Linked DNA regions of Homo sapiens: all the other regions are linked to region 1. Evidence: fine-mapped expression QTL. A gene starts in region 1. Each other region holds a variant in brackets. All regions are shown on one strand. Distances are between the middles of the regions.

Region 1 (7,362 bases):
ACCATTCCTTCTGCCTGGAATGCGCTTCCTCCGCCTCTTCCTGCAGACAGTTCCCTCTTATCCCTCCGGGTCTGTCCAGTGCCTTCTCCTCAGAGCTGTCCCGACCCCCTCTCTAGCACAGGCCACCCTCGTCCATCACACTCTCAGTACCCTCCCGTCTTCACACCCCTTAGGCCTACCTGTGATGATGCGCTTTACCCGTGTGCCCACCTGTGAGGATGATTTACCTGTGTGCCTGCAGCTTTACTGTCCCTCTCCCCTCCACACATCAGACCCTAATACTCCCCTACTGATGGGTATCTGAGCTGTTTCCAGTCTTTTGCTATTTAAAAGGTACTGCCAGGAATGACCTTGTACTCATGTCATTTCTCACGCATGAGACAAGGACAAATTCTCAGAAGTGGAACCACTGGTAGATAATGTCAAATGTATCTTCCGCAAGCAATGAGTGGCAGGGTCTCCCATGAGGCCTTGCCTGCCCCAGTCACAGCATTGAGCTCTGGCTTCCTGCTCCCCAGATGAGGCCCACTTCACCCCAAAACACTGCCCAGAGCCCTCTGCTGGATTCCCACCAGTGCCACTCACAGAATGCTCTCATCTGTGACTGAGCTAGTCTAAAGCTTTGGAGTAATGGAGAATAAGGTCAGGAATGCACTTAACCCTGAACTTCAGCCAACACTGAGAGCAGACCCAGGACCCAGCGGAGTGTCCTAGGTCTGGGCTGCCCTTTGTGCTTGCTCCTGGAAGCCAAGTCTCCCTGTTCCCAGTTCCCAGCCTCCCAAACACCTCCGGCTTCACTATGCGGGACCGTTTGGGTCCCTATTATCTCAGCAGCTCCCAGACATCAGACATGCAGATTGGTAGAATGGGGTCTCTAAGAAGGACCAAGAGACTCAGTTAATTGCCACCTACAGATAGGTATATTGAGTCCCAGTGACATCAGGCTACCAAGCCAGGGTGCCTCAGCTAGTGACTCCGGGAGGCCAAGTCCTGGCAGTTAGCCCTTCCCGGCTGCCTATCAACACATGGCAGTGCTGACCTGGGATGCCAACAGGAGGCCTTACAAAGCCCAGGTCCAGTGGTGCCAACCATGCTACTGAAAGTGTCCTTCTGGCTGGCCACAGTGGCTCACACCTCTAATCCCAGAACTCTGGGAGCTGAGGCAGGCAGATCACTTCAGCCCAGGAGTTCAAGACCGGCCTGGGCAACATGGCAAAACCCCATCTCTACAAAAAACACAAAAAAATTAGCTGGGCATGGTGGCACGTGCCTGTAGTTCCAGCTACTTGGGAGGCTGAGGTGGGAGGATCTCTTGAGCCCTTGAGGTAGAGGTTGCAGTGAGATTGAACCACTGCACTCCAGCCTGGGTGGCAAAGTAAGACCTTGTCTCAAAAAAAAAAAAAAAAAAAGAAAAAAAAATTAGGCCAGGTGTGGTGGCTCATGCCTGTAATCCTAGCACTTTGGGAGACCAAGGCAGGAGGACTGCCTGAGCCAAGGAGTTCAAGACCACCCTGGCAACATAATGAGACCTTGTCTCAAAAAAAAAAATTATACAAAGAAAAGTGTCAGCCAGGTGCGGTGGCTCACGCCTGTAATCCCAGCACTTTAGAAGGCCCAGGCAGGTGGATCAGTTGAGGTCAGGAGTTCGAGACCAGCCTAGCCAGTATGGTGAAACCCCATGTCTACCAAAAATACAAAAATTAGCTGGGCGTGGTGGCGGGTGCCTGTAATCCCAGATACTTGGGAGGCTGAGGCAGGAGAATCACTTGAACCTGGGAGGCAGAGGTTGCAGTGAGCCCAGATGGCGCCACTGCACTCCGGCCTGGGCAACAAGAGCAAAACTGTCTCAAAAAAAAAAAAGTGTCCTCATGGTCAAGTCTTGGCTGGCACGATGTTCTCTTCCTCCTCCTCTCACCTAAACCAATGCAGTCCAACAGAATTATAATGAGAGCCACAAAGGTAATTTAAAGTTTTCTAATAAGCACATTAACAAAAGTTAAAAAAAAAAGGTATACTTAATTTCAAATATTTTAACCTAAAACAGTATATTAAAAATATTATCAACTGGGCATGTGGCTCACGCCTATAATCCCAGCACTTTGGGAGGCCGAGGCAGGTGGATCACCTGAGGTCAGGAGTTAGAGACCAGCCTGCCCAACATGGTGAAACCCCGTCTCTACTAAAAATACAAAAAATTAGCCGGGTGTGGTGGCACATGCCTGTAATTCCAGCTATTCAGGAGGCTGAGGCAGGAGAATCGCTTGAACCTGGGAGGCGGCGGTTGCAGTCAGCAGAGATTGCACCACTGCATTCCAGCCTGGGCAACAAGAGCAAAACTCCGTCTCAAACAAAACAAATAAAAAAAGTAACTGGGCATGATGGCGGGTGCCTGTAATCCCAGCTACTCGGGAGCCTGAAGGGGGAGAATCACTTGCACCCGGGAGGCGGAGGTTGCAGTGAGCCGAGATCGTGCCATTGCACTCCAGCCTGGGCGACAGAGCAAGACTCCATCTGAAAAGAACAAAACAAAACAAACAAAAAGTATATCATTTCAACAGGCAAACAACATAACCCATTTTCATGTTTTTATTTTACATTTTACTCACGAAGTCTGGTGTTTTTGGGGGTTTTGTTTATGAGACCGTCTCGCTCTGCAGTCCAGGCTAGAGTACAGTGGGGTGATCACAGCTCACTGTAGCCTTGACCTCCTGGGCTCAAGCGATCCTCCTGCCTCAGCCTCCCAAGTGGCTGGGCCTACAGGCGTGCACCACCACACCCGGCTAATTTTTAAATTTTTGGCAGAGACGGGGTCTCCCTATGTTGCCCAGGGTGGTCTCCAACCCCCTAGCCTCAAGCGATCCTCCCTCCTCTGCCTCTGCAAGTGCTAGAATCACAGATGCGAGCCACCGCGCCCGGCTAAGTCTTGTTAATCGGTATGCATTTTACGCTTACAGCACATCTCAATTCAGACTGGCCGCAGGTCAAGCGCTCAGCAGCGCACGTACCAGGTGGCCGCCCTGTCTGACCGCGCAGCCCTAACCAGCAGAGTCCTGGTGCTCGCCGGGGGCAACAGTGGGGTCGTCCGTGGTCAGCACTGTGCGCGCACCGGGGTGGGAAGGGGGAGACCGAGGCGGGGCCTGCGCCGCGGCCCCGCCCCCTGCCGCCCCGCCCCCTGCCGGCAGCCAGGGAGCGGGCTGAGCTTAGAGCTCGGCGGCCCCAGCGGCGTCCCGGGGCCCACTCACCTGGCCACCGCCTCCACCGAGCCGGCGATGGCCGTGCCGCCGCCCGCGCCGCTGTCGTACAGCACGCCCGAGATGTCAAGCAGCACCCCGCGCACGCCAGCCAGCCGCTTGCCCCACGGTGCCATGGCGCCCGGCCCTGCTCCTCAGCTCCGCGTCCCAACCGACGCCGGCGCCGGCGCCGCGGCCGCGCAGGGGCGCCTGGGAACTGTAGTCCCGCGGGCGGGGCAGGGCAAGAAGACCGGGTGCAAACCCGGAACTGGGGCGCGGCCTGGGCACCCCGGCGTCACTCGCCCCTGAAACGGTGTCCTTTTCGGAAGCTTTCTTCCCAGGAGATCAGCGGACAAAGAGCAGGAAAAGCAGAAAACAAGTCCCTAAGAAAGGTCAAAGGCAAATTGAGACAAGAAGGCACCTGTAGCCAGGGGCGGTGGTTCACGCCTGCAATCCCAGCACTTTGGGAGGCAGAAGCGGGCGGACAGCTTGTGCCCAGGAGTTCTAGACCAACCTAGTCAACATAGTGAGACCCTGTCTCTATTAAAGAAAGAAAGAAAAAGTACAATACAAAATTGAGGCCGGGCGTAGTGGCTTATGCCTGTAATCCCAGCACTTTGGGAGGCTGAGGCGGGTGGATCGCTTGAGATCAGGAGTTCGAGACCAGCCTGGTCAACATGGTGAAACCCCTGTCTCTACTAAAAATACAAAAATCACCTAGGTGTGGTGGCGCATGCCTGTAGTCCCAGCTACTCGGTAGGCTGAGGCGGAAGAACCGCTTGAACCTGGGAGGCGGAGGTTGCAGTGAGCCGAGATTGCACCACTGCACTCCAGCCGGGGCGACAGAGCAAGACTTTGTCTTAAAAAAAAAAAAAATTATATGCAGATAACAGCCCTGCATAGATGAGGATGCATAGGACCTGGGCTGAGAAGAAAACGGGACTATCACAATGCGTTAAACCCAGGAGGTTTTTGGATAAGCTATAAAATACCACTCGATGCTACATTATTTTTGCAATAAATACACATTGATATTAAAAGGGAGGAGTTTCCTCAATGGCCCCTCGGAACCTTTCAAGTTATTAAATAGAAACGAGAACACTTTACTTCTGGTCCAACATAGCTTTGAGCTTTCAAAGAAGAGAGGATCATATTATTTCACCATTTCTTTTCAGGCTCTTGATTCACAGAAAGGATGAGGAATTCGTTGAAATGTTATGGGGTTCAATGAATTGTGTATATTTTGTTGACATGCTTACTAGGGGAGCTGTTTACAAGTGAAATAAAATACAGTTCCTACCCTTTGGGATTTCCACTAATGGGGTTGGGGAGTAGTATACCTTATATAAGGGTTCTTAGTCGCAGACAATAGACACCACTCCAGCTAGAGGGGTTTTGTTTACATGAGGTGAAGGAGCTTACAGATGACGGGTCTAAGTCCTACACAGCCAGGAGCCATGCAGCCACGAGAAACACTTAATTTTACTACTCCATTGGGACCACTGCCCCATCACTTAGTGCAGCCCCCAGCATAGCTGCCCCCAAAAGAACAAAACATATCCACCACTGTGCCCTCCACCTGTGGCCACCCACTCACTTTCACTGTGTCTGGCTTGGTGGAACCTAGCCCACGCTGCAAAGGAGTCTGGGAAATGCAGTTTTTAGTGTTCCAGGGGCTGAGTGAGTCAGTTTGGAGAATCTGCTAGGAACATCATGAACCGTACACGTATTGAGACCCTACTCTGTGCAGTGGGCACAAAAAAGTTCTAGGGTGTGATCCTTGCCTTCCAGGATCAAGACTGGGCAGAGAACAATGGAAGACCTTCACGACTGCTGACCAAATGTGTGCCAAGTGGCAATGAGTGACACAGACACAGTCAAGAGGATGACCTCTGCAGGCCTAGGAGGGCAGCTGTGGCTTCTGGGCAGGGGCAGCCTGAAATGGACCTTGGAGAATGGCTGGGCTTTAGCTTCATGCCAAGGAGGAGGAAAAGGGGTGCTTCTGCCAGTGGTGTGAGCCTACCCATAGTTGTTTCTTTTCAGTCAGCTCTGTGGGTACTCTTGGGCAAGTCCCTTTTCATTTCTACGACTACAGTAGACAGAATAGTGCCCCCTTGAGATGTCCACCTCCCAATCCCCACAACCTCTAAATATATTACCTGACATGGCAAAAGGGACTTAGATCTTGCAGAGCCTATGCTCCTGTAGGGAGATTATCCTGGATGGTCCAGGTGGGCCCAGTATAATGACATGAGTCCTCATAAGGGAAAGAGGGAAGCAGGAGAGAGTCAGAGTCAGAGAAGGAGGTGTGACAGCAGAAGCAGAGGTCAGAGAGAGAGGTGTGAAGATACCGTGCTACTGGCCTTGAATACAAAGGGGCCATGAGCCAAGAAATGCAGGTGGCCTCTGGAAGCTAAAAAAGGCAAAGAATTGGATTCTCCCCTAGAGCCTCCAGAAGGAATGCAGCCCTGCTGGTACTTCAAGTTTAGGACTTCTTACCTCCAGAACTATAATAATAAATCTGTTGTTTTAAGCCACTAAGTATATGGTAATTTCTTGCAGTAGTGACAAGAAACAAATACAGGGATCCAGGTCCCTCACCTGAAAAATGTGGCAAGTCTCTAAGTGTGGGCCACTGATAGGCTAAAACTTGATCTGAAAATTCCAGGCTTTTCTTGGGATGCAATGAGTGTAGGGCATTGTCTATGTTAGGGTTGCATTTGGCTACATGTAACAGAAACCCAGCCATAGTTGCCCAACCAAATCAGATTTTACTTTTCCTCATATATCAAGAAGCCAAGAGGGAGGAAATCCTGGATGGGACAACAGCTCCCAGGACCATCAGGCTGCCTCCTGCTTTCTGCTCCACCACTCTCTCAGCATGTGGCCTGCTCCTCACGCTAGCAAGATTCCTGCTCCACCCGAGGCATCATGACTGCATTTCAGGCAGGAAGGAGGGGAAAGAAAAGAAAAAAGGGCATGTGACAGCTGAGTCTGACCCTTTATACCCAGAAAGCAAAAGCTTTCCCAGAACCCTGATCCAATGGACTCTCATTTGCATCTTTTGGGCCAGAGCTAGCCAGGTGGCACATGAACACCATAGTGTGCCAGGAAGCATACACCACTGACTGAGCTTTCAGCCTGTTATAGCAAATCTACAACTCATGTCTGAATTTCAGCTCAACTATGAATCTATCAACCATCTATTGCTATACTAGACATATGCCTCATCCTTTCAGATTTGCTTGTCATAGTCAGGACTCTTCGGCTGCCAGTGACAGAAGCCAAATTTCAAATGGCTTCAATTTAAAGGAATTTATTGGCTCGCACAACCAGATAGTCTAGCAATGGACAGCGTCAGGCATGGCTGGTTATCAGCTCTGGGCTCACAGAGTCTCCGGTACACCACCTGGTGAGGATCCTTTTCCTCAACTTGGTCTGGCTGTTCCAGAAAGAACTCTGATTGGCTCTCTTGGGTCAGTGTCCCCCATTGTCTGTGTTCCAATGGAAGTGATACTGTGATGTTCCAGCCTGACTGGTGCCCTTACCAGGGCTGGAGGTGGGACACTTGCCTATAGTCCCACCATGACCAGAAGGAAAGGGAGAGGACAAGCCCTCCAGCAAAAAGCAGGGCGCATTAGCCGGACGTGGCAGCACATACGTGAAGTCCCAGCTACTCCAAAGGCTGGGGCAAGAAGATCACTTGAAGCTGGGCGTGGTGGCTCACGCCTGTAATCCCAGCACTTTGGGAGGCTGAGGCGGGTGGATCACGAGGTCAGAAGATCAAGACCAGCCTGACCAACATGGTGAAACCCCCATCTCCACTAAAAATACAAAAATTAGTCAGGCGTGGTGGCACACGCCTGTAATCCCAGCTGCTCAGGAGTCTGAGGCAGGAGAATCGCTTGAACCCGGGAGGCGGAGGTTGCACTGAGCCAAGATCACGCCACTGCACTCCAGCCTGGGCGACAGAGCGAGACTCCATCTCAAAAAAAAAAAAGAAGATCACTTGAACCTAGGAGTTGGAGGCTATAGTGTACATGACTGCAACTGCAACTGTGAATGGCCACTGTATCCTAGCCTAGGCAATATAGCAAGACTTCTCTAAAAAAAAAAAAAGAGAGAGAAAAGA
Region 2 (7,362 bases), 140 kb before region 1:
AGGCTTCTCTCAGCAGCTCTACCTCTGAGACTGCTGGCCCTGGCCGAGGACACGGCAAGCTGGGTAGGCAGGTGGGTGGGGTGGGGGTCCCTCTGAGCGAGACAGAGACAAAACCAGAACGGCTGGCTAGCTCAGTAAATCAGCCCCCTGGCAAAACACCTCTCTGCCTCAGTTTCCTCATCTGTGCCATGAGGATAAAGCTGGCTCCGCCCCCTACCAGCCACGTGACCTCAGGCAACTTCCCTAAGCCCCTGTGCCTTGGTGTCCCTGCCTCTAGACCGAGGTCATAATAGCATGCACCATGGGCTCCCATGAGGAGGGCAGGAGCCAATATTCGTGGCAAGGACAGGTTGGTTGGCGCGGGTGTGGGCGCTGTTGTGGCTAAAATGGAAAACTCAGCAATCCTGTCCAGGGAATGCACCGTGGGCTGGGGCTGGGCTGGCCAGGGAGGTAGAGCATGACCGGCCTTGAGCCTTCCCCTGGGCACACAGGCTGGTGGGGGGCAGACAGGCAGACGGACGGACACACTGATGTGTGGGCTACATGGGGCACAGGGAGGACAGGGTGAGTGGGGAGGAAGCCCGGCACAGGCACTGGATCAGGAGGGTCAGAAAGGCTCCAAGCAGGACCCTAGGGGGCATACCAACAGCCTGGAGTCCCAGCAGACCTGGCACTAGGGAGGGTGCCTGCGGGAAGGACCAGTAGGCTCACTCCTACGCCGAGGCTCTGCCCCCTCCTGCCCTCTGCCCCTGCAACGCTTCTATTCCCTGGTCTCACCTCTGCCTGGCCTGTGTGCATGGGCCTGCATCAGCCCTGCCAGGCTGCCCTCAGCTCCCACTAGGGTCTGGGGAGATGAGCTCCAAAGCACTGCTCGCAGCCGCCACGTGTGCACCCAGCCCACGCTTACAAGGAGTCGGGGGCTGAGGCCGCGGCCCGGGTCTGACGTCCTCTCTGGTACCGCAGCCAGTTCCCATCTGATTTCCAACTTTTCTCCCCACAACAGTGAGAGGTTTGGGTTCCTTGTTGCCCGAAGCGGAACAAAAATTCTTCCAGCAAACACCGCCCATGATTCATCATCCGAGCCCCCGGGGGACTGGCCCCCAGGACCCCCTCCTTGGACACCTTCCCCAGGTGCCCTGGGGCCAGGCTTATTGTCCAGGCAAAAGCAACCAGCCCCGAGAGGGAACAAGAGGTCTCCCCATAGAAGATGACGCTTTGTAATGAGAATCCGGCCAGCCCCACTCCGCACGTGTACCTAGCCGAATGGCGTCCGTGGCTAATTATGTTTAATTACATATCATTTAAATTCAAGAATCCACTAAAAGAAAGGATTGCATTAGCACCCGGCCGGTGTTTGCCCACACGCAGCGGAAATCGTGGACTTTTATGTCTTAATTACGTGACGCTGCTGTGGGCTGTGTCTCCCAGGGAGCTGGGGTAGGCAGGAGGGGACCTGTTCCTGGCCTGGTGGCCCCAAAGCCCCTGAAGCAGCTCTGCTTTGTCCAATGGCCTGGGCAGGAGGAGTCCCTGCCCCACACTGGCCAGTGCCCTGTGACCTGTGGACCTCAGAGATGTCACGGTACAAAAGCTGAACCAAGAAACCCAGCAAAGGTGTGTCCTCGGCAGTGGGTACAGAGCGGAGAGGGTGAAGCAGGAGGGGCCGCAGACCATCCTGCCCGGAGTGGCCCTACTGGGACAGAGCTGGAGGAGGAGGAAGAGACAGACAGAGAGACACGGCCACACACGGAGGGAGGGAGGGCAGGGACAGGAAGAACCATGAGACAGGCAGAAACGGAAAAAGAGGATGAAGCAGAGAAAAGAGGGCAGAGAGAGGGCAGGCGAGTAGAGACAGACACATGGAGGGAGGGGACAGGCATGGGACACAGGAACAGGGGCAGGGGCCTGTAACAGGCAGGGAAGGGCTGGGGCTGCCCCCACGGTTCTGTGTCCTGGCCATGTGGGCCTGCGTTAAGCCCCTCCGCCCTTCCCTGGCTACGGGCCTGGCTGACGGCTCCCCGTGGGGGTCACAGCGCTGCTCCTCCCCCTGCCCCAGGCCCAGCCCAGGCCCCCAGACAGCTGAGCACCCTGCTCTGTCCCCAAAAAAGTGCATGGCCCAGGGCCGGTCTCTTCACCTGCCCGAGCCTCAGTTTCCTCATCTGTAAGGTAGCATAGGGCTTGGCTCTGGGGGCCACTCTGAAACGAAACAAAAGAGGCAAGACTGCACACGAAGTTGGCGTTTCCCCTGCACCTGGGGACCCTGCAGCTCACCCTGGCGCTGGCCCTGCCCCCTCCCACCTCCACCATCTGCCCTCCAGGGTTCACAGTCCAGTTCCACACTCACAGTTGTCAGCACTGCTGGGAAAGAAAGAAAAGGGCCTGGAGTCTGAGGGCACTGATGGGAGAGGGAGTGGGGCAGGACTGAGCGGGGCAGGGACGCTTCCGGAAACAGGGACGTTAAGGCTGAGCACTGCTCCCGTCCATCGTCCTTGCTGCTGTCCCCCCGAGAATGGTGTGGAGACACCAGGCCTTTGCTGGGTGGCTTCTTCACTAAGCCAGAGTGCCTGGCCCTCGGGGCCTGGCTGGGAGGTGGGAGCAGTGAGTGATTTCCCCAGGCGCCTGCGGGGCGGCTGCGGGTTCTCCTCTCCTCTCCTGGGGGCAGCCTCCCTCGGGCTGCATTTGGGCGTCTCTGGCTGAGGACCTGCTTCTGATGTGGGGTGGGCCCTCCAGGTACCTCCCCCATCCTTGCGCAGGAGCCTGCAGGGTGGGTCCTGCTGCCCGGGTTTCGGAGGTAGAAGCGGAGGCACACAGCTGGGAGGCATGTGGCTGCAGGACCAGGAGGCTGGCCTTAACCACCGGAACCCACAGGGTGACCCGGGCCCCTTGAAGGCAGGAGGTCTTCTGCTGAAGCCTGTTCCCTTCCCCTTCCCCCTCCCCCTCCACTGGCTCTCCCTCCTGCCTGGCCCCCTCTCCTCTTTTGCAGCCAGAGTGGCTTCCCTAAATGCTCAGCTGCTCCCGCCTCCCCTGTGTAAACTGCTGTGGCTCCCTATTGCCCACATCATAGCCTGGCTCCTCAGCATGGCAGATGAGTCCATCCTGACTGGGCCCCACC[T/C]GCGGACCTCCCTCGCCTCGCCAGCCACTCAGTGTCTGGGCTGCTGCTCTTCAGACATCCCAGCTCTCCCTGCCATTGCCCATGCTGTGCCCTGGAATGCTCTTGAAACCTGCTCCACCTGCAAACTCCTGTTCACGTTTCAAGACCCCACTCACCTGTCCCCATCTCCCACTGTATGCTCCTTCCACAGGGCGAGTTGCTCTCTCTTCTGAGCATGCAGAATGTGCCCTCCAACCACCCCATGCCATCAAAGCTGGGGGCTGCTCTGCCACTTCATCTGCAGGTGCCAGTGTTGACTTCGCTTCCTGGAGGGACAGGCCAGGTTTCCTGCCCTCGGTGGTCCCCCCCACAGGCCTGACCCAGAGCAGGCACCCAGGAAGTGCCCACCAAATGAATAAACAAAGGCCCCCAGCTGGGCAGGCCAGTGCCTGTCATCAGTGATTCCTCCCCCTCATGCTCTGTCAGCCGAATGCAGGGAACGGGTGAGTGAGAGGCAGAAAACAAGGCGGTTCTGTGCCTGGGGCCTGGCCAGCTTCACAGGGACAGTCTTTGTACCAATCGAAGGAAAATGGTGGCCAGGCCCCAGCAAAAGAGCCCCATGAGGCCAGTCTCCCTGCCGCCTCCTCCAGGGCACACGCAGGCCAGCACCGCCTCCTGGGGAACACTGACCAAGGGAGACGGGTGCGGCCTCTCCCCGAGGGGCTCTTGAGGGACCTGAGCTGCCCGGGACTCCCAGTCGGTGGCCCACCCGCCTCCTCTCTACCCTGCAGGGGCAGGGGAAGGGGCAGGGTGGGGCAGAGACTCTCACAACTGGAGGCCGCAACAGCTGCCTACCCAGGGAGGGGCAGGTATCCCTGTCCCCATTTGCTTTGGAAAGGCAGTGGCTGGGAGCCAGGTGCAGGGGGCGGCTGCCCAGTGAATTCAGGGATCTGGGCACTGGCATCAGAGGGTGACGCCAGCTCGGCTGTGCCGACAGACTTGCAGGACAAGGACAGAGGGTGATTCATGAGGTGGAGGTAGTGAGGCCGGGCAAGGGGCATCCTTCCATCAGAACCCCAGGAGCCCAAGACCCCCGGGGGCCTGGGGGGTTATTTCTAGAAGGGTGTTCACCAGAGCCTGACCCTGGCAAGTGCCTGGAGGATGCAGCTGGGAGGTCTGCCTCCACCTGCACACCCGCAGCTTCTCTGAAGGCTGCTTATCAGATGGTCTGCACCGGTACATCACACACACTAGGCCTGTGCCCATGGGGTTCCCTGCTGTCCACGTGCTGGCCCAGCACGGCCACCCTCAGGACAGCAGCTTGCTGGGGCCCAGTGAGGTGGGCAGAAGGCCCAGAACATCCCACATCCAGCCCGTGACCTGGCCTGAGCTGGGTCCCTGGCAGGTGCCCGAGGGTCGGTGGCCTCCTTACGGGGTAGCTGGGTGGCGGAGTGGAGATGGCCACAGATCTCAGGCAGGCTGCTCCGACCTCCGTCCCCTGGGTTCTGGAAGCAGGTCGGGGAATGACATGCCCAGACCCATGTACCTCTGGGAAGGTGCCATGTCGTGCTGCTTACAAAGAAACCCGAGCAGGAGCTCCTTCCCATGGAGCCTGTGCATCCAGCCAAGGCCTCCCAAGCCCCTCTTCTCCCAGGACCTGGGGGTCAAGAGGCACACAAAGGACTCTGACCTGGTCCCTGCCTGCAAAGAGCTCACATGGCACCTGAGCCCAGCACTCCAGCCCCAGGCCCGGGCCTTAGCAGCTGCCTGGGGGACACAGGCTCCAGCCTCAGCTACCTGTTCTCACTCAGGGATTGCTCAGCCCTCAGGCCCGTGTCCTCCCAGGCCAGCTCTGCCCACAGGCCTGGGGACTGCTGAGTCAACCTGGAGCCCCGGAGCCCAGCGTGGGGACCCTCCAGCCCAGGGCACCTCCTGCCATTGAAGCCAGCTGGGTCCTGGCACGAAGGGTGGCCTGGAGGGACCGGAGGGTCCAGGGCCACATCAGTGCCGAGGCGAGGGCCGCGAGGAGGCTCCCAGCTTGGAGACCCGCCCTCCCCTTGCCCAACCTGCTCACACATACAGGACCTTCTCGGGCGGCTTTGAAGTCACTTGGCAGAAAAAAAAAATCCAAACAAAAACCCAGGACTGAAGGAGTCCTCATCCTGGGCCTCTCTGGGTCCCTCACCTCTCTGGCCTGGGGACCAGAGCAGGGATGGGGACACACTTCCCCTGGCTGGGACCTCCCTTGGAGGTGCCAAGCTCCCTTTCCCACTGGCCCAGCTGAGAGCAGGAGCAGTGGCCCTGTCAGGTGCTTGTCCCCCATCCGTTTGGCCATCTGCTCCTCTGTAACAAGGAGGGGTGGGGAGGGAGGAGGTGACCCCTCCCCCTGAGCCCCTACACATGGAATGTGTGTGTGGATGAGAAAGCTGTGCACCCGGGCTGGGCCTGCCCAGCCCAAACCACCCGTGCCCGCCTTCCTCCCACGTGGGGTGAGCCAGACACCCACAGAGGCTGGGCATGAGCGCACTGCAGGTGTCCAGCTAGGCTGCCGCCCGCAGGCAGCACTACATACAAAGAGCCAGGGCAATGGTGAGGGGCCTGGATTCCCCAACTCTGTCCTGCCCTGGCCTGGCCCAGCCCCAGTACCCCTCCCAGGGACTGCAGCTGGCCACACCCCACCCTGCCCTGTCCCTCCCACCTGTCCAGGAGGCCTGACAAGGGTGTCTCAGAGCTAAGAGTGAGGTGGGGTCCTGTGCCCCCCAACCAAAAGAGACATCTTCCCTGTGTGCACATGTGTGGGCGGTTGCAACCCAGAAATAGGAGAGGGGCGCACTGCGTCTCCTGCCCCTCGGCCTTGGATCCTTACAGTCTCCTGGTGGTCTGGCCCCCATCTGGATCTGGATGTGTGAAGAGCTGGGGTGGGGCAGGGCTGGGCTAACTGAACCCCAATTTTCTTCCATTGGGGGGCAGGGCTGGGCTAACTGAACCCCCTTTCCTTCCAGTGGGTGGTGCCCAGGGCCCAGAGCCTGCCCCGGCTGACCTGTCCTCTGGCTAGTAAGGACAAAAGTCTCTCCTCGCAGAAGGAGGCACTCACTGAGCCAGTCCCCCAGGGCTCTGAGCCCTAGTGGGTAAACCGAGGCACAGGAAGGGATCTGCCCAAGGTCTCACACACCCCCAGGAGCCACAGACTCACTGGAAATAGGCCTGCCTGCTGCCCACAACCCAGAGCTCTCCACCAGCCAGTGGGCAGGCCCCGGGATGCAGGTGAGGCTCCTCTAGCTAGCAGACTTGTGGCCTCCAGGACATCAGCGATACCACAATGGGCCCACACCTCTGCAGTAAGCCAGCTGTGGGTGGCGTCTCTATGTGCTCTGCACAGCGCGCCATGGGGTGCGCACCATGATCTGCTTCTCTGAGATGAGGAGAGAGACCCCCAGAGATGAACAGCCATGCTCAAAGTCACAGCCAGAAGTGGCAGAGCTGGGGTTTAAACCTGGTTCGTCTCCCTCGCACAAGAATCGAAATCTGGGCTCACGTCAGCAGATCCTCCCTGGGCACGTGGGGCATAGCCTGCATCTGGGTGTCTCTGGTGGGCTGGTTGACTCTGGCTAGACCCGGAGGCCTGTAGGCAGGGGTCTCCACTCCCACCCACCCCCGGATGGAGCTGGGGCACTACGAAGAGGCAGTGCAGCGGAGGACGGGGCACAGCACACATGGAGGTCAACGGGACCTGGAGAAGGAGTGGTGCATGCTGCGAGTGCACGCAGGGCCTGGTAGCCCACGGCCTCCCCATGGCTGGTGCTCCACGTGGGGCCACCCAGATGCCTGCATTCCTTGGGATCTGCAGCCTGGTGGTCAACAGGACCCGGGGAGCCAGGCCTGAGGCAAGGGCGTGTGCCAGCCAGGCAGAGAGCAGTGGGGCCTGGCGGGGAAGGGTTTTTGCCGTGAACCTTGGCACCCACCAGTCTCTGTCCACAGGGAGGAAACGGGGCTTATTTACGGCTGGGTTTAGCCAGGTGGCACTCTGTCAACCAGAACCGACACCATGGCGCCAGCTATTTCCTGCGCGGTTCTCACTGCCCCACTGACTGCGGGCACCGCAGGGGCTGAGAACAGAGGTGGGACGCACTGAGAGGGACTGGTGGTGACGCTTGGCCGCCCACCAGCGGGTTGGTGGTCTCCAGAGACTCCCTCACGTGGCAAATGCGGTACCTTGAACCCCCAATCCTGGCTGGAGTGTGGGGCAAGTGCTCACCCGCCTGTCTCAGGCCCTC
Region 3 (7,362 bases), 38 kb before region 1:
AGGCCAAGGCAGGCAGATCACCTGAGGTCAGGAGTTCAAGACAAGCCTGGCCAACATGGAGAAACCCTGTCTCTACTAAAAATACAAAAATTAGCCGGGCTTGGTGGCAGGTGCCTGTAATCCCAGCTACTCAGGAGGCTGAGGCAGGAGAATCACTTGAACCCAGGAGGTGGAGGAGGTTGCAGTGAGCTGAGATCATGCTATTGTACTCCAGCCTGGGTGACAGGATGAGATTCCTGCTCAAAAAAAAAAAAAAAAAAAAAAAAGGCTGGGCGTGGTGGCTCACGTCTGTAATCCCGGCACTTTGGGAGCCGAAGCGGGCAGATCACGAGGTCAGGAGATCGAGACCATCCTGGCTAACATGGTGAAGCCCCATCTCTACTAAAAATACAAAAACAAAAATTACTCAGGCATGGTGGCGGGCGCCTGCAGTCCCAGCTACTTGGGAGGCTGAGGCAGGAGAATGGCGTGAACCCAGGAGGCGGAGCTTGCAGTGAGCTGAGACAGCGCCACTGCACTCCAGCCTGGGTGACACAGCGAGACTCCGTCTCAAAAAAAAAAAGATAATTACTGAAAGGGACAAATAGCAATGACAGTAGAGAACTCTGGAAGACACCTCCTCAACAGGTGATCAGAGTTCACAGATAAAGGACACTAGGGTCATGACTGCTACATGCAACGTGTCCCCAGAAAGCCATGAGTGGGATGACTGGTGGTGTCTGAATAAGCTCTCTAGGTTAGCTAACCGCCTTGTGCCAGTGTTGATTTCCCGGTTTTATCACTGCTCGATGATGATGGGGAAGCTGCTGAACGGTACACGTGAACATTTTGTACTATGTTTGCAACTTTTTGTGAGTGTCAAGTTACTTCAAAATGAAAAGTTGAAAACAATTTTAAAGTGGTTATTAGTTGATAATTATTAAAGCACAGTGATGGGTACCTAGGAGTTCCCTGAGCTGCCCTCTCTACTGACATAGATATTTCAAATGTTCTATGATGGAGGGCTAAAAAGAGAGGCTCAGAAAACATAAAAACGACACACAAGTCACGGAGCTTCTTCAGATTGGATTCCAACAGATCAACGGTAAAAGAGCATTTCTGAGACAGTCAAGGAAATTTAAATATGGGTTGCTATTAAATAATACTAACAAAAATCACTGTTAATTTTTTAGGTGGTTTTAAAATGTTTATTGTGGTAAAATACACATTACATAAAATTTATGACCGTGACCAGAGTATTCAATTCACTGGCATCGAGCACATTCAGAACGTCGTGCCACCATCATCACTGTCCAGTTCCAGAATATTTTTCTTTTTTTTTTTTTTTTTTTTAAGACAGAGTCTGGCTCTGTCGCCCAGGCTGGAGCACAGTTGCACGATCTCGGCTCACTGCAATCTCCACCTCCTGGGTTCAAGCAATTCTCCCACCTCAGCCTCCCGAGTGGCTAGGATTATAGGTGCACACCACCACGTCTGGCTAATGTTTGTATTTTTAGTGGAGACGGGGTTTCACCATGTTGGCCAGGCTGATCTCGAACTCCTGACCTCAAGTGATTCACCCTCCTCAGCCTCCCAAAGTGCTGTGGTTACAGGTGTGAGCTGCTGTGCCCGGCCCAGTTCCAGAATATTTGTATCATCCCAAAAGGAGACCTCGTACCCTGAAGCTGCACTCCCCATTCCCCTGCACCCGACCCCTGCCAACCACTAATCTCCTTTCCATCTCTATGGATTTGCCCATTCTAGACATTTGCTATACATGGAAGAATACAATATGTGTCCTTTTGTGTTTGGCTTCCTTCACTTAGCATAATGCTACCAAGGTTCATCTACACTGTAGCATGTGTCAGAACTTCATTCCTCTTTATGGCTGAATAATATTCCACTGTATGGACATACCACATTTGGTTATCCTTTCATCAGTTGATGGGCAGGTATCTTGGCTTTTTTTACCTTTTGGCTATTGTGTATGGAGCTGCTATGAATATCTGTGTACAAGTTTTTGTTTGAACACGTGTTTCAGTTCTTCTGGGTATAGACCTGGAAATGGGTTGCTGAGTCATACGGCAAATTCTATGTTTAACTTTGAGGAACCACCAAGTGGCTTTCCGTGGCAGCATTGTCATTTCACCTTCCCAGCAGCAATAGAGAAGGGTTCCAATTTCTCTACATCCTTGCCAACACTTGTTATTTTCTATTTTTTTTTTTAACTATACAGTCATCTTAGTGTGAAGTGGTATCTCACTGGAGTTTTGATCTGCATTTCCTGATGAATGATGATATTGAGTATCTTTTTGTATGCCTGTTGGCCATGTTAGGAGTTTTAATGTATTGTATTTACATCCAAAAATCGTGATTTTTAAATGTCATGCTACAACATGAAAGGATACAATTGAGATTTGCTTTAAAATATGAAGCAAAAAAATAAGTAAATTTATTATTATCATTACTATTACTATTACTTGGAAATAGAGTCTCACTCTGTCGCCCAGGCTGGAATGCAGTGGCACAATTTCGGCTCACTGCAACCTCCACCTCCTGGGCTCAAGCAATTCTCCTGCCTCAGCCTCCTGAGTAGCTGGGATTACAGGTGCATACCACCACACCCGGCTAATTTTTATATTTTAGTAGAGACGGGGTTTCACCATGTTGGCCAGGCTGGTCTTGAACTCCTGACCTCAGGTGATCCACCTGCCTCAGCCTCCCAAAGTGCTGGGATTACAGGCGTGGGCCACCACACCCAGCCAGTAAATTTTTTAAAAGGAAAAAAAAGAGGATAGAAGAAAGGAATGTGGCAAAATCTTAACCACTGAAGCTGGATGATGGATATAATGGGGTGTCTGTATCATTCTCTCTACTTTTCTGTATGTTTGAAATCTCTAATAAAAAAAGAAATTCTGCCCTATGAAGCAAGGTAGTAAAAAGCCAGGTTATTTATTGCTGCAGTTCTCACTCATTCAAAACACAAACCTTTCCTTCTCAACAGACTAATGTGACATTTCCCAGGTGTTTTCTGGGGACTCCAGACAGCCTGCATCTTCTGACATCTCTATGGATCTCAGGGCAGGTGCAGGTGCAGTGTCTAGATTTTGGCAGCTTTGGGCCATCTTTCTCAAAGCACCATGAGGCACCAGTGTTCTGGACCGAAATGCACACAGGGGAAACATGCACCAGGCTTGACACCTGAGGGACCCCCAACCCATGCTTCTGCTGCCCACTTCTGAGGAGGCAGCAGGACAGCCTGGGGCAGCTGTGGACTCTGTTTCTTTTTTCTTTTTTTTAAAGAAGGAGTCTCACTCTATCACCCAGGTGGAGTGCAGTGGCATGATCTCGGCTCGCTGCAACTTCTGCCTCCCAGGTTCAAGCAATTCTCATCCCTCAGCTTCCCAAGTAGCTGGGATTACCAGGCATGCACCACCTCGCCCAGCTAATTTTTTTTGTTTTTCTGTATTTTTAGTAGAGATGGGGTTTCATCACATTGGCCAGGCTGGTCTCAAACTCCTGACCTCAAGTGATCCACCTGCCTCAGCCTCCCAAAGTGTTGGGACTACAGGCGTCAGCCTCCATGCCGGCTGCCCACTATTCCTTACAATCTTTCAGAAAACCTGCTGGAGGGGGCTGTGTGTTGGTGGCTCATGCCTGTAATCCCAGCACTTTGGGAGGCCGAGGCAGGAGGACGGCTTGAGCTAGGAGTTTAAAACCAGCCTGGGCAACATGGCAAAACCCCATCTCTATGGAAAATACAAAAGTTAGCCGGGGCTGGGCATGGTGGCTCACACCTGTAATCCCAGCACTTTGAGAGGCCAAGGCGGGCAGATAACCTGAGGTCAGGAATTTGAGACCAGCCTGGCCAACATGGTGAAACCCTGTCTCTACTAAAAATAAAAAATTAGCTGGTGTGGTGGTGCACACCTGTAGTCCCAGCTCATCAGGAGGCTGAGGCAGAAGAATTGCTTGAACCCAGGAGGTGGAGGTTGCAGTGAGCCGAGACAGCGCCACTGCACTCCAGCCTGGGTGACAGAGTGAGACTCTGTCTCAAAAAAAAAAAAAAAAAGTTTGCCAGGCGTGGTGGCATATACCTGTAGTCCCAGCTACTCAGTTGGGGTTGGCGGGGGGGGGGCCTGGTTAGTAAGGGGGTTAAGGGGGCACTGAGATGGCAGGATCGCTTGAGCCTGGGAGGTCCAGGCTGCAGTGAGCCATGACTGTGCCACTACACTGCACTCTAGCCAGGGTGACAAATGGAGACATTGGCTCAAAAAAAAAAAAAAAAAAAAAAGAAAAAGAAAAGAAAACCCACTGGAGGACGAAGCCAGACTCACTTAGGGTTGGGGTAGGTGTAGACAATAAAATCATAACCGATTCTTTTTCCTTTCTAAAATTTGGAAGTTTGAAAGGCAATCTATCCCAAAATAGTCAAAATATAAAGGTCGCAAAATGAGTGACTTTATTATTTCCTCCATATTGTTGTAATCTTGCTGTTACACTGTCTTGCCAGTGAGATATATTAACACACTGATAGGACTTGTCAATTCTTATCCTTTCAGAGAAGCAGCAAAAACTCAGGAAAAGCCGCAGGCATTTCTGCTTCTTGCTTTCATACTGAAAGTAACTTCACGGTTGAAACTATTCAGTGGATTTCGTTTGCTGTCTTCCCCCTCCTTCCCAGCCAGGTCAGCTTTCACAGGGAGCCCACGCTTGGCTGCCTGGCCAACCCCACAGGCTGCCTGAGTCCTGTAATCCATTCCAAGCTCCAGGGCCTCCCTGACGGGGC[T/GGCCTCCCTGACGGGGCT]GCCTCCCCTGACCCACTTCACAAGGCGCCAACCTACCTGGTGGGCTTCCACTCCTATCGCTTGCAGGGCAGACTTGAAAAACTCAGGAGAAGGCTTCCCCACCACCTCGGCTTTGATGCCACAGGCATACTGGGAAAAGAGAGAGGGACATGGCATAAGTTTGGGATCAAGGAACAGGTGTATGCCCAGCCACGGAAACACTGTCCCAAATGTGCCCCCAAGAGTCAAGGGCCTTGAAGAAGCAGGATGCTGTGGGCCTGAGAACTCATCTCACAGGCAGGAGCCTCACAACTCCAGAAAGGGCTGCCCGGGTCACTCAGGTCCCCTAGCACCAGGCACCCTGCCATCCACTCAAAGGCCTACCCACAGCAGAAGGCATCCAAGAGCTGGCAAAACTACAGGGCTCCCAAGGGCCAGCAGAGCAGTGCTCTGCTCACTCGCCTGCAATTCCGTCCTCTCATCCCTTCTCCCCCTCTTCTCCCCTGCCCACTCGCAGCTCATCACAGGGCTCCATCTGCTCGTCTGCCTCTCCCTCCCACCTGACGGCAGGCAGGCAGGAGGGGCTGCAGCTGTGAGGATGGGACGGGATGTGAGGCTGACCTGGGGCAGCTAATGGGACCTGGGCCAGAGTGGACCCAGGGGAGCCCCACCCGGAGGCCTGGCCACAGATGGCCTTGGAAACTGAAGGGGAAGTCAGGAAGGAGGCCAGTGAGGACCCGTCAAGCTTGAGGTGCTGCAGATGCCCAGGGTCAGGAATGAGAGCGGTGGTCAGCACTGATACAGAAGCCACAAGCCCGAGAGGAGTGTGGCAGAGAGCAGCTGGGAGAGCGGCAGGGTCCACGGCGGGCAGGGGGGGCTGCGCCCACTGGAGGATGGGGAGGATGGGGAGGATGGGGAGGATGGGGAGGATGGGGAGGATGGGAAGGATGGGAAGGGAGAGATGGGGAGGGAGGAGGACAGCTGAGGGCCTGAGGGCCCGAGGGCCCGGCCAGGGGAGCCCAGAATAGGAAGGCAGCCTTTGTGGAAGCCCAAAAGGCCATTTGTACGTTAATTAAGCACAGCCTCTTCTCAACAAAGACCCAAAAAGTCCCAGGTGCCCTGAGGTCTGAAGAGAGTTTGGGACAGAACCAGGGCTGGTACCTCAAGCGCCTTCATGTAGGGACCAACGTCCAGCATCAGGCCAGAGGTCTCCTTGTAGTAACGCCTAGGAGAGAGCAGAACGGAGCACGGGATGCTGAGCACGGGGAGCTGACCGCAGGATGCTAAGTATCGGGAGCTGAGCACCGGGCCTGTCCCGCTGGCTGCAGAGCCAAGCCGCGGCTGAGGGGCAGTCCAGGCGCTACGCTGAGAATGACCGCAGGGGACCAGCACCACAGAGCCGGGCGGCAGGCCGCCACACCCAGTGGGGCGAGCGCAGCAGCCAGCAGCTCCAGGGATGCCACAGGTCGCACAGAACGCAACCCTGCTGTCAGACTCGTGGGGACCCTGCTGCAATGATTAACAGGGGACCCAGAAGGCAGACGGTTTCAGTTGCTAACACAGAGAATGACAAGTGACCTGTGTCCTGGGAAGGAACAGCAGGTCCACGGGGTATGTGGCGAACCCCTAATTGCTAATAATTAACCCCTAATTGCTGGCTGAAGAAGAGAACTCCATTAGTTCCACAGCACCCTGCCGCATCCCGTTAGCCGGAGGTCAAGCGAGGTGCCAGGTTTCATGGGCGCCAGATGCTTTTATGAGAAGACAACTGTTCCTTCCCGTCTCATGGAGGTGGAGACAGGCTCTGCACGAGGGAGCATTCCTCTCTCAAAATGGCCTCACTGCTCTTTGAGCCCAGGGCTGGCTTGGTGGCTGGCTGCAGCCCGGCCAGGCTCACCCTACGATCGCGTCACACTGAGCCTCAAGGCACTCACAGTCCAGACACATGGTGGGCCAGACCTGGCTCTGGCTGAACTAAGCCAATTGACTACAATGAGGCGAGAAAGTGGTTTAACCTGCGCTGCTCTGAAGACGCAGTTCATTGAAAGCCAAGAATACACAAGGGGGCTTGATTCTTGGAACCACTAAAATGTTTTGCCATCCACCATCACATCAGTTTCCCTCTCCTCCTGCCATGCCCTTACGATATGGGAGACGTGGAGAAAGCACGTATGCAGAAAACGAGAGGGAAGAAGAGCGCATGCTGACTTGAGCATTCAGATCTCACTGCCTTCTAACGGTGTGACTTTGGGTTGCTTACGCCTGTGGGCCTCAGTTTCCTAATCTGTAAAATGGGCAAAACGAACAACAAACAATACCTACCTCACGGATTGCTGTGAAGCTTGAACAAAATAACGCATGCAAAGTTATTAACTCGGTACCTTCCATGCAGAAGCTGCCCAGATGAGACAGGAGAATATTATTATAAATAACCTTTCACCCAGGCTGACACAAGCAATAAGATGAGCTGGGGGAAGGAAAAAATGAACACAGCCCTGTTCAATTTGGGGGCTGAAATGTGTTCTGTGACCACCTGGGGTGTGAGAACTGAGCTCCTCGGGAGCTGCCCTGGGGCTGTGCCCTTCCTCCAGCTCCGCCACTCCTGGGCACCCTG
Region 4 (7,362 bases), 30 kb before region 1:
CTGCAAATGGCCCAGGTTACCTTGGTCCCCCTTGGCATTAACGATCCCAGATGCTCCACAGCCCTTTGCAGGACTCAGGGATACTCCCAGCCCCAGCCTGCTCCACAGGGACTCACAGTCTGGTGGGGAAGCAAAGAAGCCCACAGACAAACTTTAAAGGGCAGGACCCAGGGGAGGGGCAGTCTGCTTGAACAGGGCGGGGGACAGGCTGGGTTCAGGGAGGCAGCAGAGGCATGGAAAGCTGAGACCTGAGCTAAAAGGAAGTGAAGGGGAGGTCCGGGTCCAGGGAGCACCTTGGAATCCACTGAGCACCCTGCTGAGGACCAGGGTGGCCACGCCACCACAGGCAAGGCCCTCTGCAGGCCCTCAAAGGCCATGACCCTCGTCCCCTCCTGCCCACCTGTGCCAGGAGAAGGAGGGCATCGAGGTGGGTAGGGAGGGCCTCCCTAATGAAGTGATGTGTGGAAGTAAGCCAGGACGGAGGAAAGAATATACCCCACACAGGAAATGCTTACCCAGCAACAAAAGAAAACCTGAAATCAACAAAACTACTCCATTGCGACAGGTACAGCTCTGTTTGGAGCTGAGGATTCTGGGGGCTTCTGGGCCCAGACCCCTGTCCCTCAGCTACCCTGGGGCCGGCTGGAGGAGCTAGAGGTTGGGTGGACGGGAGCAAGCACCTCCCATCATCTGGCAAAACCTCCTAAGGGGACCCACGCGGCGCCACTTCCTCTGGCCTCAAGTTCCCTGCAGCCTCTTCGAAAGCGAAAGAAACCTGGATTTTCTTATGTTTAAATTTAGTCCTGGATGGGATTTTAAAAAAACTGAACGTGCAACTGAAAATACACAATCAAAACCTTGTCTTTGCATGCTAATCTTTAGAGTCCAAGGAGAACACGAACTTCCAGAAATCAAAATGAGAAACTTTAACGTTTATTTTTTAAAAAACTGAATCTGGGCTTGATTTTATAGTGCCCAGAATTTTTCTTTATTCCTTATTCATTCAGAAAAACAAAAAGGCATCTTGAGGCCAACTGTTACCTGGAAACATTTTTTAGAGACAGAGCAAATATAAGCACTTAAAATTTTTTTTTAATATAAAGGCCCGGTAATCTCCACACACTAGAGATGCGACGTATTTCTCCTGTTACTGGTTACTGGTTTAACCCAGCCAACGGCAGCCCCACTTAGGACGTGAATGTTCTAGCCACAAAGAGGAACCCGTGGATGCTGGAAAGAAAGGGGGAAGCCCGGGAGGAGGAGTCAGATGCGATTTTATGCTTTATTCTTCTGCCGTTTCAGATTATTCAGCACAGCCTCCCTGCAAATGACCACTTGACCTTTCCCAGAAGAGCCGTTAACCTTCCATAGTCTGTCGGGTAAACAGCTTAATTTTCTGAGAGCGGCATGACAGAAGAAATTACAAAGCCAATTCCCACTCTGGGGTCCAAACAGATGCCAAATGTAAATCACTCCATTTCCAGGAGAGGGACAGTCTGCCCCGGCGCCTCCACCCGCTGCTCCTGCCTCCTTGGTGGGCACCGCTCAGCCTGTGCCCCTGTGTCCCGCAGTGCAGGATGGACCTCACCAGCAGTGACCCACAGCCGAGGACGGCATGGTGATGGCAGCTCTCGGGGGGTCCTCAGGCTGTCCTGAGAAGCTGGGACCTAGTCCCTAAAACCGCCGGTTCCTTTCTCTGGTTTTTAAACACCCAGAACCCCCATCAGCAGAGACGCCACTAATCTCCTACTTTAAAAAAACCCTTGTCTACTATGACATTTGCTGCGGTATTACAAAGCTGAAAGCGACTGCTTCCGGTTTTTTTTTTTCTTTTTCAACAATATACCTGTTCTGACTATTATTATCCATGATCTGGAATAGTGGTTTTTAATAATTATGAGACAACTTTTTTTCTTTTCTTTTTTGTAGAGACGGAATCTTACTATGCTGCCCAGGCTGGTCTCGAACCTCTGAGCTCAAGCCATCCTCTCATCTCAGCCTCCCAAAGTGCTGGGATTATAGGCGTGTGCCACGAAGCTCAGCATGAGACATCTTTAAAGAAAAAAGTGTTAACATTAACGAATTACAGCAGAGCTTCTTCATTATGCTTGTTCTCTAGTGAGGTGTTGGTGACTCAAAGGCCTAATGGGTCAGCCCGGGTAAATGAGTTAAGAGGCCAGGTTCTGTGGCTTGCTCCATAGCAGCGACCTAAATTGCAATGGGTGTAAGTTTAAAAAGGGACTACAAGGGTTAATTTAATATGTCAACTTGGCTGGGCCACGGTGCCCAGATATGTGGTCAAACATTATTCTGGATGTTTCTGTGAAGGTGTTTTTGGATGAGATTAACATTTAAATCGGTGAACTAGGAGGAGAGTACATTCCCTTCCGCAATGTGGGTGGACCACATCCAACCAGTTGCAGGCTTTACAAGAACAAAGACTGACCTTCCCCGAGCAAGAATCCCACCAGCACACAGCCTTACGACTCTGCTGCGCGCATTCCTGAGTCCCTAGCCTGCCAGCCCTGCCCTGCAGATTTTGGACTCGCCAAGCCTCCACAATCTCTCTACATATCTATATCCTGTAGCTTCGGGCTTCTCTGAGGAACCCTGACTACATACAGGACACATTTTATTTATATGAGAAACATACTAGAAATTTTTTGT[C/T]ACTAAAAAAATCTTTTCATTTCTTGAAACATCTTTCACTTGTCCATTTTTGATAGAGACACAGCGTGAAGAAGTACTTCTCTACTTTGAAAAAAACAACAAATGGCACACGATCAATGACAACTAACTCTGTGGTCTGGAGACAGGGACGACAGGGAGGAGTGGGGTCTGCAGTAAATTCAAACTAATGGAGGCAGTGGCTCCAGCTATGGCTGCTGTGTGTGCAGGAATGTGAGGCTCCGTATTGTCAGATCTTCTGATTCTTCAAAAGAATCCAGAAATCTGGATATTTTGTGTAAAATATCCCCATTTTTAAACACAGCCTCAAAAATACATTTAAGGTTTTGTTGTTTTTTTCGAGATGGAGTCTTGCTCTGTCGCCCAGGCTAGAGTGCAATGGCGCAGTCTTGACTTACTGCAACCTCTGCCTCCCAGGTTCAAGCAATTCTCATGCGTCAGCCTCCCGAGTAGCTGGGACTATAGGCACGCACCACCACACCTGGCTAATTTTTGTATTTTTAGTAGAGACAGGGTTTCACCATGTTGGCCAGCCTGGTCTTGAACCCCTGGCCTCAGGTGATCTGCCCACCTTGTCCTCCCAAAGTGCTGGGATTACCGGCGTGAGCCACTGTCCCCAGCCCACATTTAAGGCTTGTGTGGGCAAAAAGTCTGCTCTAGAATGTAGCTTAGAGGTAACACGCACAGGGTCTGGGGTCAGCCACACCAACTGGCACTCCTGATCCTATCAGCACTCAATGGCTGGGGGACAGCAGCTTATTTCATCTCCTGTGGCTTCAACAACCCCACTTGCAAAACAGCAATGACCTGCCTAGATCCCACAAGGTTGTAGTCAGAATTACACAAAACGGGGTACACAAAGTGTGTGGCAGTGGCCAATGGCCAGATAAAAAGTCCCTCCCTGTCGGTTCCATCAGCTGGTCCCGTACAGCAAGCAGAGGCAGTGAGCGCTGTCACCAGAAGCAACGAAAGCACCGAAGATGGAAAACACTTCCTCCGCCACCGCCTCGGAATTCCCACACTTCATGAGATGCTGAGGTAGACACTCCAAAGTGTCCTTGCAACCCTGGGAGCCTGTGATTCTAGAATTCTAGCTGTGTAGAACCCTGTGATTCTAGAATTCTAGCTGTGCAGAACCCTGTGATTCTAGAATTCTAGCTGTGCAGAACCCTGTGATTCCAAAACTCTAGGCTGTGCAGAACCCTGTGATTCCAGAACTCTAGGCTGTGCAGAACCCTGTGATTCTAGAATTCTAGCTGTGCAGAACCCTGTGATTCCAGAACTCTAGGCTGTGCAGAACCCTGTGATTCCAGAACTCTAGGTTGTGCAGAACCCTGTGATTCTAGAATTCTAGCTGTGCAGAACCCTGTGATTCTAGAATTCTAGCTGTGCAGAACCCTGTGATTCCAGAACTCTAGGTTGTGCAGAACCCTGTGATTCTAGAATTCTAGGCTGTGCAGAATAAGTCTGTGCAGCTTTCTGGAAACAACTTGGCAACATGCCTCAAGAACCTCAAAAATACTCGTTCTGTAACTGTATCTGGAGACGTCATCCGAAATGCACCAAGATGCTCATCACAGCCCTGGTATGGTGAAAAACCAGGAACAATCTAGATGCCATCAGCAGAGATCAGTTAGAAAAAAATCATGCTTTCCAGCCCCGGACCTGGACCCTACAGCTGCAGAGATGTTGATGCCTAAGAAGAACCAGATTGCTATTTATGAACTCCTTTTTAAGGAGGGAGTCACGGTAGCCAAGAAGAATGTCCACCTGCCTAAGACCCGGAGCTGGCAGATGAGAATGTGCCCAACCTTCACGTCATGAAGGCCAGGCAGTCTCTCAGGTCCTGAGGTTGCAGGAAGGAGTTTGCCTGGAGACATTTCTACTGGTACCTCACCCACATGGGGATCCAGAATCTCTGCGATTACCACCATCTGCCCCTGGAGAGCGTGTCTGCTACCCCATGCCACAGCGGTCTGGAGACTGGCAGGCTGCGGCCTAAAGGTCTGGAGCGTGACCGACCTGCAAGACCCACAAGTGGGGAAGCCAACAGAGACACCCACAGACAGGGAGAGATACCCACAGACGAGGAGAGACACCCACAGACAGAGACACTCACAGGGACACTCACAGAGAGACACCCACAGACAGAGACAACCACAGACAGAGACACTCACAAAGAGAGACACCCAAAGACAGAGATGGACACCCACAGATGGGAGAGATACCCACAGACAGAGAGAGATACCCACAGATGGCGAAAGACACCCACAGACAGAGAGAGACACCCACAGACAGACAGCCATAGAGAGAAAGAGACACCCACAGATGGAGTGCTGTCCCCCTGGTGCCAGTGAGAAAGCTGAGGCTGGGAATGGGTCAGCAACCGAATTTCAGTTTACAGGCGTATTTGGTCGTGGACATGGTCAGCCACCTCAGTAAAACTGGTGAGGGTTATTTTGCATTGAATAAACTTATAAGCAGAAAAAAAAAAAAAGAAAAAAATTACAAGAGGTTGGGGGCGGTGGCTCATGCCTGTAATCCCAGCACTTTGGGAGGCCAAGGCGGGCGGATCACAAGGTCAGGAGATTGAGACCATCCTGGCCAACATGGTGAAACCCCGCCTCTACCAAAAATATAAAAATTAGCTGGGATGGTGGCGGGCGCCTGTAGTCCCAGCTACTCAGGAGGCTGAGGCAGGAGAATCGCTTGAACCCGGGAGGGAGAGGTTGCAGCGAGCCGAGATCACGCCGCTGCACTCCAGCCTGGGTGACAGAGCGAGACTCAGTCTTAAAAAATATATATATATACAAGATAGCCACACCATAGATAACCATGCCCCAAGACATATCCATTTGCTGCATGCTAAGTCAGTCACAAATATTGTTTGGTGAACAATAAAAAACAGATGACAAAACAAGGTCAAGTGTGACATCGATGCTGTGAACATCTCCATCCATAATAGTCTATTCGCACAGGAAGCCACTTGCAAGGACATACACCAAAATAGGGACAGGTGTTTTCCTCGTGCAGTGGGACTAAAAATACTTTCTGGTTTCTTCTTTTGCTCATCTGTATTGTCTAATTTTTCTTCAATGAACATGTGCTATCTCAGTGTAAGAAAAATGTTAAAAATAACCAACACTGTTTTGTTTAAGAAAGAGATGGCAAGGCATGTGCTAAAGGCTCAGACAAAACACTGATCACAAAATCACAACTTCACAGAGACAGTGATCTGTGGCCAGAGACTGTCGGTGCCCAGACTGGGTAGGCCCTCAAGCCTATGTTTTACTAATTAGACAACCCTTGAGAGCATTCTCCAACACCCTGCTACATCCTATGCAAATGCACCTTCTCCTTCTTTGCTCTAAACTTGGGACAATCAACACTTGGCCTCTGAGATCTCCAGAGGGTCTCCCTCTGCAATGACGCCCTCTTCTAGTCTAGACTCCACATGGAAGCTTGATCAACCAGCTCCTGAAGACAGTGTTCCTATTTCCTAAAGAAATGATTAAAGGAGAGGAATAAAGAAATGAAGAGAGAAAGCATGAAAAAGGGAGGGAAAAGAAGATCACCGGTGCTCCTCCCACCTCCCCTTCTGCATCCTTCTCTGCCTGATTCCGCAAGTTGGAGACTGGCACAGCATCATCTAAAGCACCGAGAAATGACTCTCCCTGGAGCCAACTTACCCTTTTCCCAGTGATATGAGCACAGGTTTTTCCAGCTCCATGAGCACCTGGAAGGCGTTATTCATGTTTTGATAAGAAAAGCTTTCTCCTGCGTCTGCAATTACCACACAGTTTGGGTTGGATGTGTCGATCTGATCAAATTCTGAGCGGACTCCTGGAAAGAGAGAGAGAGACAGAGTGCCACGGAGCCCTGGGAGGACATGGCCTACCTCCCCATCTCCTACCAGGGACACCTTTCACATGTCCTCCCCCTTTCTCAGATGCATTTCTTTCTGATCATCACAGCTGCCATGGGAGGTAGACACAGAAGGGTTATTCCTATTTGACAGAGGAGGGAATTCGGCTCCTCAGAGAGGGCTTATGAGGAGAAAGGTGGACACACCCAGGACCCTCCATCCCAATACCACATCAGCCCCAGGAGCTCCCTGAGGTCACTATCGCAGGCAGGAAACCCACAGCTTTGCTACTGAGAAGGGAAATCTGCTCAGAAGACACTGAGAGCCTGCAGCAGGAGGAAATGGGGCTGCACAAGCCTTGGAGGGTTGGCACTACTGGTCCCAAACTGTAAGAACCGTTGACACATTTCAGGCAACCCCACACATATGTCCTGAAGAAAAAGCAGAATTCCATCCCCACAGGTCCAGTTCACCAGCTCCCTTAGGAAACTCTCTTCCTCCTTCTCCTTCTTTGTCTTCCCCCATTTTAAATTAAAATAGGAAAATTTGCAAGGATACATCAAATCATTGGATCTGTGTTTTCAGATCCTAGAAGAAACATGCTGTCATCTCTCTTAGGACTAGATGTTGACCTTTCTAAATTGAAAAGAAACTGAGGCCAGGTGCGGTGGCTCATGCCTGTAATCCCAGCACTTTGGGAGGTCAAGGTGGGCGGATCGCCTGAGTTCAGGAGTTCGAGACCAGCCTGGCCAACATGGTCAAAATCCCATCTCTACTAAAAATACAACAATCAGCCCGGCACGGTGGCGGCC

Alleles and levels. Positions count from the first base shown, and alleles are read on the strand shown. Sizes are in standard deviations (SD) of each study's normalised expression. Not every link is listed here.
As copies of C replace T in region 2, the expression in hippocampus of the gene that starts at base 3,407 in region 1 goes down (small effect, 0.25 SD a copy in GTEx).
As copies of T replace C in region 4, the expression in monocytes after LPS of the gene that starts at base 3,407 in region 1 goes down (small effect, 0.34 SD a copy in Fairfax 2014).

The links.
Region 2: its variant is fine-mapped to the expression of LHPP in hippocampus (GTEx, PIP 0.99). The same link has a PIP of 0.9 or more in substantia nigra.
Region 3: its variant is fine-mapped to the expression of LHPP in thyroid (GTEx, PIP above 0.99).
Region 4: its variant is fine-mapped to the expression of LHPP in monocytes after LPS (Fairfax 2014, PIP 0.95).

The regions. Positions count from the first base shown.
Region 1 is chr10:124,457,868-124,465,229 of GRCh38, reverse strand. LHPP (phospholysine phosphohistidine inorganic pyrophosphate phosphatase) reads right to left here and starts at 3,407. Exons shown (of 7, transcript NM_022126.4): 1 at 3,243-3,407. The coding sequence starts at 3,367. RefSeq lists enhancers at 550-1,050, 1,051-1,551 and a silencer at 3,068-3,527.
Region 2 is chr10:124,601,418-124,608,779 of GRCh38, reverse strand. The region is part of intron 6 of LHPP (phospholysine phosphohistidine inorganic pyrophosphate phosphatase); the gene reads right to left. Among named protein-coding and RNA genes, the nearest start is that of FAM53B-AS1, 99 kb to the left of the region's middle. RefSeq lists an enhancer at 1,939-2,883. The variant T/C (reference allele first, on the strand shown) is at 3,110.
Region 3 is chr10:124,495,572-124,502,933 of GRCh38, reverse strand. It overlaps LHPP (phospholysine phosphohistidine inorganic pyrophosphate phosphatase), which reads right to left. Exons shown (of 7, transcript NM_022126.4): 4 at 5,910-5,973; 5 at 4,806-4,898. Among named protein-coding and RNA genes, the nearest start is that of LHPP, 37 kb to the right of the region's middle. RefSeq lists enhancers at 6,001-6,578, 6,579-7,156, 7,157-7,362. The variant T/GGCCTCCCTGACGGGGCT (reference allele first, on the strand shown) is at 4,769.
Region 4 is chr10:124,487,588-124,494,949 of GRCh38, reverse strand. It overlaps LHPP (phospholysine phosphohistidine inorganic pyrophosphate phosphatase), which reads right to left. Exons shown (of 7, transcript NM_022126.4): 3 at 6,375-6,528. It also overlaps the pseudogene RPS10P18. Among named protein-coding and RNA genes, the nearest start is that of LHPP, 29 kb to the right of the region's middle. The variant C/T (reference allele first, on the strand shown) is at 2,668.